Linked DNA regions of Homo sapiens. The protein of the gene in region 3 interacts with the protein of the main gene of each other region in a biochemical or structural test. Each region holds a gene or a part of one and is shown on either strand. Other genes may lie near its edges. The genes, in order: RBBP8, TOP2A and PIAS4.

Region 1 (3,749 bases), on a different chromosome or scaffold from region 3:
TCTCTACTCAGAAAATTCCCTCCCCTTCCACCATCTTCCTTGCCTGGCTAATTAGACTTAATTATCAAGCCTGGTCTGACATAAACCATGCACAAACCCACTTCCCCATGCAACCACACACACCCTCAGTTCTTCCTTCATGTTTTCAGATAATAACATAGTATACTGCATTAAAATTCTAGACTAGAAATTCCCTTAAAGCTAGCACTATATAGGATTTATTCTTATTCACAAGGTCTGGCACATAGTAAGTGCCCAAAAAACATTTCTTGAACATTTCTTTGTGTCTCCATGAACACTGGGGCTTGAAAGAATACTTTTGGGGTTGTTCATATTTCAAAACTCATTAATTAATAAGGGTGTCACCAGAAGTTTTGCAAGAAACTAAACTTACCATGGGAAAGTTCTTTTTTTTTTTGAGACGGAGTTTCGCTCTTGTTGCCCAGGGTGGAGTGCAATAGCGTGATCTCAGCTCACTGCAACCTCCGCCTCCTGGGTTCAAACGATTCTCCTGGGTTCAAGCGATTCTCCTGCCTCAGCCTTCCTGAGTAGCGGGGATTACAGGTGCGCACCACCACACCCGGCTAATTTTGTATTTTTAGTAGAGACAGGGTTTCTCTATGTTGGTCAGGCTGGTCTCGAACTCCTGACCTCAGGTGATCCGCCCACCTTGGCCTCCCAAAGCACTGGGATTACAGGCGTGAGCCACCGTGCCCAGCCTACCATAAGAAAGTTCTAATACAGACTCACATACTACACTTTAGATTCAGGTTGATTATGTTTTAATAGTACTCCAGTGTAATGATACAGCTATAAAGCACTGCAATATTAAACTTATAATAGGTAATCAAGAAACAAATGTAATATGAAGCATTTCTCATACATAGGGACATAGGGAAAGTTACAGAATTAAAGTATATTAAAATTTAATATTAAAACCTTGAGCTTAGCTTCATATGGTGTATCTTTTAACACAAATAATATTTACTCATCTCAACCACAATTGCTTAATCCTCTAAAACTCCTTGCACGTCATAAAAACCTTTTAACTGTTATTTCACTGTACTGTAATTATCTGTTTACACGACTCTACTAAGACTGCAGGCTGTCTGAAGGTAAGTGGCCATTCACTTTTGTATTTCAGTGCTACGGGTTTGTCAAATGACTTTATGTAGTATTTTTATGTCTATATCCTGCAAAGAATTTTATAGAAGAAAATTAAATTTAGAGGTTAGGTAATTAGGCTAAGATCACAGAGCAAGTGGGTAAATGAAATCAGAATTCAAATGCAGGTCTTCAGTCAACAAATTGTATACGTTTTCCACTATCTCATACATATTACCACAAGTAAATAACAGCAAGTTGTATACAAACTATGTTCTGTGGTTAAAAAGCACCAATTTGACCATAAAAATGAATCACAAAAACTACAATTGTAAATGTCCTCTAAAAATGAGATCTGGCTGGGCGCAGCTCACGCCTGTAATCCTAGCTGTTTGGGAGGCCAAGGCGGGAGATCACCTGAACTCAGGAGTTTGAGACCAGCCTGGGCAACATAGCGAAACCCTGACTCCACAAAAAATACAAAAACTAGCTAGGTGTTCTAAGGTGAAGGATAAGTTTAAAAAAAACAAAAACAAAAACAAACTAGCTGGGCATGGTGCGTGCGCCTGTAGTCCCAACTACTTGGGAGGATGAGGTGGGACAATCACTTGGGCCCGAGAGTTTGACACTATAGTGAGCCATGTTTGCACCACTGCACTCCAGCATGGGTGACAAAGCAAGACCCTGTCTCAAAAAGAAAAAGAAAAAAAGATCAGCTGGGCACAGCAGCGGACACCTGTAATCCTAGCACTTTGGGAGGCTGAGGCCAGTGGACTGCTTGAGCCCAGAAGTTCAAGACCAGCCTGGGCAAAAAGGCAAAACTCTGTCTCTACAAAAAATACATAAAATTAGCTGGGCGTGGTGGTGCACACCTGTAGTCCCAGGTACCCAGGAGGCTAAGGTGGGAGGAACACCTGAGCCTGGGAGGTTAAAGCTGCAGTGAGCTGTGACCATACCACTGCACTCCAGCCTGGGCAACGGAGTGAGAACCTCTCTGAAAATTAATTAGTAAATAAATAAATACATGAATATATAAATAAATAAATAAATAATGAGATCTTTGGGCCAGGCGCAGTGGCTCACGTCTGTAATCCCACCACTTTGGGAGGCAGAGACAGAAGGATCACTTGAGGCCAGGAGTTCAAGACCAGCCTGGGCAACATAGTGAGACCCTGACTCTACAAAAAATAAAAAATTAGCCAGGCATGGCAGCGTGTGCCTATGGTCCCAACTACAGGAGGGAGGCTCACTTGAGAATGGGAGGTTGAAGCTGCAGTGAGCTGTGATCACACCACTACACCCCAGCCTGGTGACACAGTGAGACCCTGTCTCAAAAAAAATAAAAAAAAAAAAAAGATATCTTTGAATTTAAAGATGGCCATTAAATGTACAAAATTCAACAGTGGACTGAATTAAAAAAAAGTATATATACATCATGGAATACAATGAAGCCATAAAAAAGAACAAAATTATTTTCTTTGCAGCAACATGGATGCAGATGAAGCCATTACCCTGAGCAGACAACAGAAATACTGCATGTTCTCATTTATAAGTGGGAGCTACACATTTAGTACACATGGACACAAAGAGGGGAACAACAGGTACTGGGACCTACATGAGGGTGGAGGGTCAGGGGGGTGGGAAGAGGGTGGGGATTGAAAAACTACCTATGGGGTACCATGCTCACTACCTGGGTGATGAAATCATTTGCACACCAAACCCCAGCAACATGCAATCTATCCATGTACCAAATCTGCACATGTACCCCCGGAACCTAAAAGCTGAAATAGAAATAATAAACAGGACTGTCATACAAAGGTATACAAAGCCACTACAGTCTCAACAAAATACTGCTGTAAGTATTTAAGAAAAGATTTTACCTTGTACTTCTCTATCATGACATTCTTTTAGTTTTGTCCAAAGGTCCTTAAAGTCACTAGATGTATCTGCAGAGTTAGGGCTTCCACAGCTGCTTCCCGAGATGTTCATCTTGCTTAATATGCTCCACACTTCTACTTGCTTAATATTTTCTGACCTTTTCTGTTACATTATAGAGGTATCAAGTCGTCTTTGGACAGGTCAAATACCTGAAATGACAGATTGCAACATAAATGAACTTTGCATTTATCTTTATGTACTTTGAAATCAGGATGAAACACAAGCCCAGATATCCTCATTTACCATTTCCTTATTTACCTATAATCAATCATTTTTAGAATTTGGGAGGGGAAGGAAAGAATAAGGAAAGATGATAATGGTGAGAAAAGTTCTGATTTCAGTTATTTGGCTATATGAGGTAAATTTTCAGGCAAATTTTCTTATTTCTCTTAGAGGAAGAAATTATCTCAATTATATTAAACAGAAAGGATTCAGATATTGAGGGGTTTTTATCATTCATGGTCAGTATTAATTTACCACTATAGACTAATGTATTGTTTTGGCTGGGGGAGATGGCTCTTGCCTGTAATCCTAGCTCTTTGGGAGGCTGAGGTGGGCAGATCACTTGAGGCCAGGAGTTTGAGATCAGCCTGGCCACCATGGTGAAACCCCATCTTTACTAAAAATACAAAAATTTGCCAGGTGTGGTAGTGCGTGCCTGTGGCCCCAGCTACTCAGGAGGTTGAGGCAGGAGAATTGCCTGAAAC
Region 2 (3,749 bases), on a different chromosome or scaffold from region 3:
TATCGAGTTATTAACTAAAATATAGTACCATCCAAGAATTAACTTAAAATAACTGAAATAAGTTTTCAGCATTTTATTTGAGAGCAAGGCAGTTTATGATTGATATTGGTTTTCCTTTTTTTTTTTTTTTTTTTTGATGGAGTTTTGCTCTTATTGCCCAGTCTGGAGTGCAGTGGCATGATCTCGGCTCACCGCAACATCCACCTCCTGGGTTCAAGCAATTCTCCTGCCTCAGCCTCCAGAGTAGCTGGGATTACAGGCGCACACCACCACACCTGGCTAATTTTGTATTTTTTTTAGTAGAGATGGGGTTTCTGCATGTTGGTCAGGCTGGTCTCGAACTCCTGACCTCAAGTGATCTGCCTGCCTTAGCCTCCCAAAGTGCTGGGATTGCTGGGATTACAGGCGTGAGCCACTGCGCCCAGCCTGTTTTTATGTACTTTGTTGAGTGGGAACGAGATGTATAGATGATCCTCTTGAAAGGGGTATAATAGGCATGATGACTCACTCCTGTAATCCCAGCACTTTGGGAGGCCAAGGTGGGAGGATCAGTTGAGCCCAGGAGTAGTTTGAGACCAGCCTGGGCCATATAGTGAGACCCTCATCTCTACAAAAAATTTAAAAATTAGCCAGGTGTGGTGATGGACACCTGTAGTCCCAGCTATTCAGGAGGCTGAAGTGGGAGGATTGCTTGAGCCCAGGAGGTCAAGACTGCAGTAAGCTGTGATCCTGCCATTACACTGCAGCCTGGGTGACAGAGCGAGATGCTGTCTCAAAAAAGGAGTGGGAGTGGTGTATAATAATGTTTCCAGATTGTCCTTTTCTTTCCATTGGGCATAAATCATTTCCCTCTGTTTATCCTAACATTTTAAAATTTTGTATTTTTTCAACATTATCAGTGTCTATTCAGGTGTTGGAAAAGGTTTTTTTTTCCTCTTGACTCCTATTTCAGGAATGTCAGGAACTAAGCATGGTGGGAAATGTTCCTGCTGAATTTCAGAAGGTATATATGAAAAGTGCCAAAAAAATTGAGGGCTGGGTATGGTGGCTCACATCTATAACCCCAACACTTTGAGCAGTTCTCCTGCTTCAGCCTCCCAAGTAGCTGGAATCACAGGCATGCGCTACCATGCCTGGCTAATTTTTTTTATTTTTAGTAGAGACGGTTTCAACATGTTGGCCAGAACTCCTGGCCTCAAGTGATCTGCCCTCCTCAGCCTCCCAAAGTGCTGGGATTACAGGCACAGGCCACCGCGCCCAGCCTGAATATACATATTTTAGAAATAATAGTATTTAAATATTTTTAAATGTTAAGCATTCGTTTAATGTGTTGTAAAATACAATTTTCAATCTTTTTTTCTTAGGGAAAACAATTTAATTAGTATATGGAATAATGGAAAAGGTATTCCTGTTGTTGAACACAAAGTTGAAAAGATGTATGTCCCAGCTCTCATATTTGGACAGCTCCTAACTTCTAGTAACTATGATGATGATGAAAAGAAAGTGACAGGTAGAGTATTGAGGGGAAATAACATATTTGTTGCTAAAAATATATATATTTAAATGACTGTCTGTGGCATGAGGGTTAAAGATATGGAAATAAATCTCTATAATTGAATAGCTCTGCCAGTGATTAAGAAATAAAGCTGTCAATGAGATAGTAACAATAAAATAGTGTTTCATATTTATTTGCCCAGGTGGTCGAAATGGCTATGGAGCCAAATTGTGTAACATATTCAGTACCAAATTTACTGTGGAAACAGCCAGTAGAGAATACAAGAAAATGTTCAAACAGGCAAGTAAATAAGTGTCTTGTACCTTAATGATAAATGGTAGTAGTATAGCCATTTATAATGGCATTAATGATTGGTTTAATTTAACATAATTTATAAGCTATTGAAGTATGGAAAATTATAAGCATATATATTAGGTTATTAGGACTCATAAATTTATGTTATTTACTTCCAGTTTGTGAGATGACTTGAATTTTTCATGTTTCCTATTCTTTACTTCCATAGACATGGATGGATAATATGGGAAGAGCTGGTGAGATGGAACTCAAGCCCTTCAATGGAGAAGATTATACATGTATCACCTTTCAGCCTGATTTGTCTAAGTTTAAAATGCAAAGCCTGGACAAAGATATTGTTGCACTAATGGTCAGAAGAGCATATGATATTGCTGGATCCACCAAAGATGTCAAAGTCTTTCTTAATGGAAATAAACTGCCAGTGAGTATTTTCCTGGATGTTAAGGATAATAAGGGATTTTGTAATCATTGTCAAGTGCAAAATTGAATTTTTTCCCCTCCCATATGTTTTTGTTTGTTTGTTTGTTTGTTTGTTTGAGACAGAGTCTCACACTGTTGCCCGGGCTGGAGTGCAGTGGCACGATCTCGGCTCACCGCAACCTCCACCTCCCAGGTTCACGCAATTCTCCTGCCTCAGCCTCCCAAGTAGCTGGGATTACAGGTGCCTGCCACCACACCTGGCTAATTTTTTGTATTTTTAGTAGAGACAGGTTTCACTATGTTGGCCAGGCTGGTCTCGAACACCAGACCTCATGATCCACCCGTCTTGGCCTCCCAAAGTGCTGGGATTACAGGCATGAGCCACTGCACCTGGCCCAACCATATGTATTTTCTTACCACTTCTCACATATGTTCTTGAAAAGAGAATGGTATGCCACATTTTTTAATCAGCTCATTTTAAACTTACCGAAGGAATTTCTTTCTCAAAGAAACACCTAAAATAAATATTTCATGTCCTTTTTTTATTTTCCTTTTTCTTTCTTTTCTTGATAACCTCGCTGTGTCACCCAGGCTGGAGTACAGTGATGCAATCACGGCTCACTACAGCCTGGACCTCCCAGGCTCAAGCGATCATCCCACCTCAGCTTCTGGAGTAGCTGGAAATGCAGGCAGCACCACCATGCCCAGCTAATTTTTTTTTTTCTTTTTAATAGAGGTGGGGATCTCACTATGTTGCCCAGGGTGGTCTTGAACTCCTGGGCTCAAGTGATCCACCCACCTCGGCCTGTGTCCTTTAATGACCATTCCCTTATGCCTATCAGTGAACATCATTGCATTGGTTTTGGAAAGTCCTCATAGTCTATCATTGAACCTATTTTTTAATAACTTTCTTAATACTGTTACCTTTAATTCCTGTACAGGTAAAAGGATTTCGTAGTTATGTGGACATGTATTTGAAGGACAAGTTGGATGAAACTGGTAACTCCTTGAAAGTAATACATGAACAAGTAAACCACAGGTGGGAAGTGTGTTTAACTATGAGTGAAAAAGGCTTTCAGCAAATTAGCTTTGTCAACAGCATTGCTACATCCAAGGTAATTTTATTCTTAAATTATTAATCATGATTTATCTTTACATATATGTGTTCTTATTGTTTTTAATATATAAAGTGGACTTGAATATTGGGCTAGCTTAGTATAAAGGAGGTTAAATTAGTTTTTAATGTTTGATTATTATAATTTTGAGGATACTGAGTTTTACAGTTTGGTATTTTTCCTTATTAGGGTGGCAGACATGTTGATTATGTAGCTGATCAGATTGTGACTAAACTTGTTGATGTTGTGAAGAAGAAGAACAAGGGTGGTGTTGCAGTAAAAGCACATCAGGTATGTGCTTTTGGCAGTTTTCTTTTTCTAAAGTCAAGGAAGAAGAGAAAGGCTATAAATAAAGCATGAGTACATTTTTAGTGGCTTAATATCAACTTCTATTGCAGGTGAAA
Region 3 (3,749 bases):
GTGGGGTCAGGCTTCCTCTCCGAAGGGGTCTCCTGCTGCTTCCCACAGCCGGCCCCAGGCTCAGCCTCTCTGTCACTGGATTTCTTTCTTGCTGCACCTAGGAAGTCCTCACCTTTGCCTCACTTGAACCCTTCCTGCTGCGCACGTCTCTCCATACACAAAGGAGGGAGAGTTTGCTTTAAAATCAGATGGGCACCTGCATCCCCTCCTAGCTGCCCCTTTGCCAGGCTTGAGGGTCCACCCGGGCACCGGGTAGCCAGAGCTGGGATCCAAGGATGGAAACTCAGCTGAGGAGTGAGCGGCTGGGGCAGCCTTGGCTCAAGCAGGGGAGCTGCTGGGAGCCAGCACGTGGCTGCCACCACGTCCCCACGGGAGAAGGAAGAGCCCACTGCTCCACACCCCGGCTGGGGGTCTGGGTGGGGGTCAGGAAGGAGGAAGTGGCTCCCAAGCGGGCAGAGATAAGTGGTGTTTCAGGCCAATAAGGGGTGGTAGGGGCATTTCCAGGCGGAGGAACGTCAGGACAGCTGGGGGGAGTGGGGGGGCAGGCTGGCACCATCACTCTGGACCCCAAGTCACTTGGGCAGGTGGCTTCCTGGAGGAAGCAACACTGGTCCACCAGGCAGCTGAGGGCCAGGTGGTGGATGGAGAGGCCCTGTGGGTTGTGGGCCAGGGTGGCCTGCCCCCCATGGCCCAGGGCTGGGGTCTCTCCTGAGCTACCCATGGATGGAGTTTACCCTGGGATGGAGCCACATCCCAGAAGCCTCAGGAGGGCAGCCAGGGTCCCTGCGTGAGTTTCCTTCTGGCTGTGGGCCTGCTGCCCGTCGAGGGGAGGGCGGCGCCTGCCTCCAAGACTTCATGTTTCACATATGTTTCCCCATGTTCCGTGCAGCTTGCTGGCGGGCACCGTCTTTTCCTTTAAAGAAGCAGCTACACTCCTGTCTGCAGGCTGCCTTGGGGCGGTGCTGGGGCTGGGCGGCAGCCGCTTGCTGGCTCACAGCCAGGAAGCCCCAGGATCCGTCTCCCAAAGAGTCCCTGCCTCATTCCCCGCTGTGGCCTTGGGGATGGTGCTTCGGTGACAGAATGAAGTCACAGCAATGACTCTTTCGGTGGCTGTGTTGCATGAAACTTGCCAGAAAAGTCCCATGGGTCATAGTCCACGCAGGGTGGGGGAGGCCACATAGGCCACCTCCGTGTGGGGGCTTCGGCTGGGTCTGTGCTGTGCCCAGGTTGTGGTCAAATCTAATGGTGGTTGCCACCCGGCTTTCTCCAATCCCTCACGGCCCCGAGCCACACAGCGAAGCTTGGGACTCATCGTCAGGGGCCTGTTCTGGGAGGTGGACGTCAGTGCCGGAGAGAACTCGAATCACAGCCCCGCGCCCTGCTGTTCCCACCCTCCTGACGGTGTCTTCCGTTCCCTCCCCACAGTCAAGGAGAAGCTGCGCCTTGATCCTGACAGCGAGATCGCCACCACCGGTGTGCGGGTGTCCCTCATCTGTCCGGTGAGTCGGGGCGCGGTCCCCTCCTCGAGGCCTCTCCTGCGGCCGGCCTTCCCCCCTGGCGGCCCTGGGCCCGGGGCGGCTTGGCTGGGCCGTGAGCCTGCGGGGGCGAGGCTGGTCTTCGTCCCCTCCGTGTTCCTGAGGCATGAGTGATTGGAGCGAGCCACAGGATGGAGCTGGGGGTGAGGGGCACCGGGCAGGCGGGCACAACAGGAGGGGTGCCCTGCTCACGCAGCCCCTCCCCCACAGCTGGTGAAGATGCGGCTCTCCGTGCCCTGCCGGGCAGAGACCTGTGCCCACCTGCAGTGCTTCGACGCCGTCTTCTACCTGCAGATGAACGAGAAGAAGCCCACCTGGATGTGCCCCGTGTGCGACAAGCCAGCCCCCTACGACCAGCTCATCATCGACGGGTGAGCCCGGGGCCCCGGGGAGGGCGGCCGGAGCCGGACATCCGTGGAGGTCTCGGTGGCACCCCGCTTCCTGCAGACCACATGGTGCCCCAGCAAGACACAGCAGTGGGGGCACATGGTCCTGGAGCTTTGGAAACCCCGGGCTGCGAAAAGAGCCGGTTTCTTTCTCGCGGAACTTCTCAGAGCCTTTGCTATGCAGGTGACAGCCACGTAGCTTAGGTTGCAGAAGGTGGGCTCCGGTCCACCCCGCTCCCACGTGACCTCAGGCAAGTGTGACCCTGAGCTCCAGGAGTGTGGTTTGTGCCACAAAAAACTGAGCCAGGTCGTGCTTTCACACGGCGTTCACCCCAGGACGCGCAGCCTTGGGGGTGACCTCCTCACAGAAAGGCAAAGGAGGTGGCGCCTCCTGGAGCACTCTGGCTACGCCATGCCCTTCCCTTCCTAGGTGGCACAGCTGTGGCCAGGCATTCCCCAGGCCACAGGGGACAGGAGGACAAGACCTTTCTCCCTGGTGGAAGGCTCTGCCCAGGGCTTAAGTTTCCAGAAACTGAGCCCCGTTGTCTGTGGTGCCTGATGCGGCTCCTGCCCGGCGCCGACCGCGCCCACCTCGTCCCCAGAGCCGCCGGCAGGGCGCGAGGCCACAGCGGCACAAGCTGGCGCCCTCACAGGCGGGAGCAGGCCCTGCCTGTGGGGGTGGGCCGGGTCCCCAGCCCTCAGGCATGGCCTCAGCGGACTGTGCAGGTGAAGGCAGGGCTGGCCTGCCTCTGGGGTTGTAGATTTCATCCCCAGGTGGACCTCCGGTTCATGCACTTGTCCCCATCCCAGGAGACAGACCTGTGAGCGTCCTCAGTTTACAGACGAGGAAACAGGCTCAGAGGAGGCAACCAGCAGCTGGAGCTACCCCGGCTCACGGGGCCAGGCTGAGACTTGAACCCAGCCTGAGTCTGGGTCCCCTCTGTGGAGGGCTGGGTGGCCACCCCCTTGCATCCCAGCTTCGGGTAGAGAGAGGAGTCCTTTGGGCCGGGCACGTGGGCTGCCTGAATGGCTGCTCTGTTCCCAGCCTGACAGCTGTGCAGCCGGGTGCCCGCCTTCCCCCACAGGCCCGGAGTGGGGCTTGGGCTTGGGGTGGCGGCAGCTCTCACAGCTCCAGGGCCACCAGGGCTGGGGCAGGCAGCTGTGTCCCATGCAGGCCTTGGCCTCAGCAGCCCATGGGACTCGGTGTAGCCAGGGAGGCTTCCTGGAGGAGGGGTCCTTGGTTCATACTTTGTTCCATGAGCCCTATCACCTCTCTGTCCCTGGCTCTGAGCTGGGTGACCCCAGGGTCCCCAAAAGAGCCCCGTCCCAGACCCTGCCTTCAGAGTCTTGTTCTTGGCCAGGGGAGCGGATAGAGGAGCAGAGCCAGACATAAACGTTCCCGTTGCTGTGTGTGTCTTGGGGAGGAGGAAGAGAAGCTGTGGGGTGGGGCTTTGGAGGGTGAAAAGCAGTTTTGCAAGCAGGGAAGTGGGCAGGCAGGGCTGTGCTACGCCTGGGGCGGCCCTGGCACGGTGGGCTCCGAGCATCGCCTCAGAGAGAGCTCGGCGGGGCGGAGGGGCTGGCCTGGGTGAGAGCCTCAGAAAGGGTGGCCCAGAGTGGGACGAGGGCTCTCCTGTGTGATGAGAACGATGCCACTGCGGGTGCCTGGGAGCAGCTGTAGCCTTGACAGTAACAGGCCAGCCTGGGCCCTGCATGGACCCGTGGGGCAGGGGGCCTCTCCTCAGACGCCCCCCAGCCACTGCACCTTTCCCTTCCTGCGGGTGGGGAGACTGAGGCCCTTTGGCTAAGACGGGTTGGGGAGCAGAACCAG

Evidence for each region.
Region 1: the proteins of PIAS4 (region 3) and RBBP8 form a complex in vitro, tested with the Homo sapiens proteins (one study listed by BioGRID).
Region 2: of the proteins of PIAS4 (region 3) and TOP2A, one has a biochemical effect on the other in vitro, tested with the Homo sapiens proteins (2 studies listed by BioGRID).

What each region holds. Positions count from the first base shown.
Region 1 is NC_000018.10:22,936,196-22,939,944, reverse strand, and holds part of RBBP8 (DNA endonuclease RBBP8), read right to left. Parts: intron 3,192-3,749; 5' UTR 3,094-3,191; coding exon 2,985-3,093; intron 1-2,984. UniProt on the Homo sapiens protein: Endonuclease that cooperates with the MRE11-RAD50-NBN (MRN) complex in DNA-end resection, the first step of double-strand break (DSB) repair through the homologous recombination (HR) pathway.
Region 2 is NC_000017.11:40,411,241-40,414,989, reverse strand, and holds part of TOP2A (DNA topoisomerase 2-alpha), read left to right. Parts: intron 1-1,364; coding exon 1,365-1,510; intron 1,511-1,697; coding exon 1,698-1,795; intron 1,796-2,018; coding exon 2,019-2,231; intron 2,232-3,171; coding exon 3,172-3,345; intron 3,346-3,534; coding exon 3,535-3,636; intron 3,637-3,743; coding exon 3,744-3,749. UniProt on the Homo sapiens protein: Key decatenating enzyme that alters DNA topology by binding to two double-stranded DNA molecules, generating a double-stranded break in one of the strands, passing the intact strand through the broken strand, and religating the broken strand.
Region 3 is NC_000019.10:4,031,675-4,035,423, forward strand, and holds part of PIAS4 (E3 SUMO-protein ligase PIAS4), read left to right. Parts: intron 1-1,425; coding exon 1,426-1,499; intron 1,500-1,745; coding exon 1,746-1,906; intron 1,907-3,749.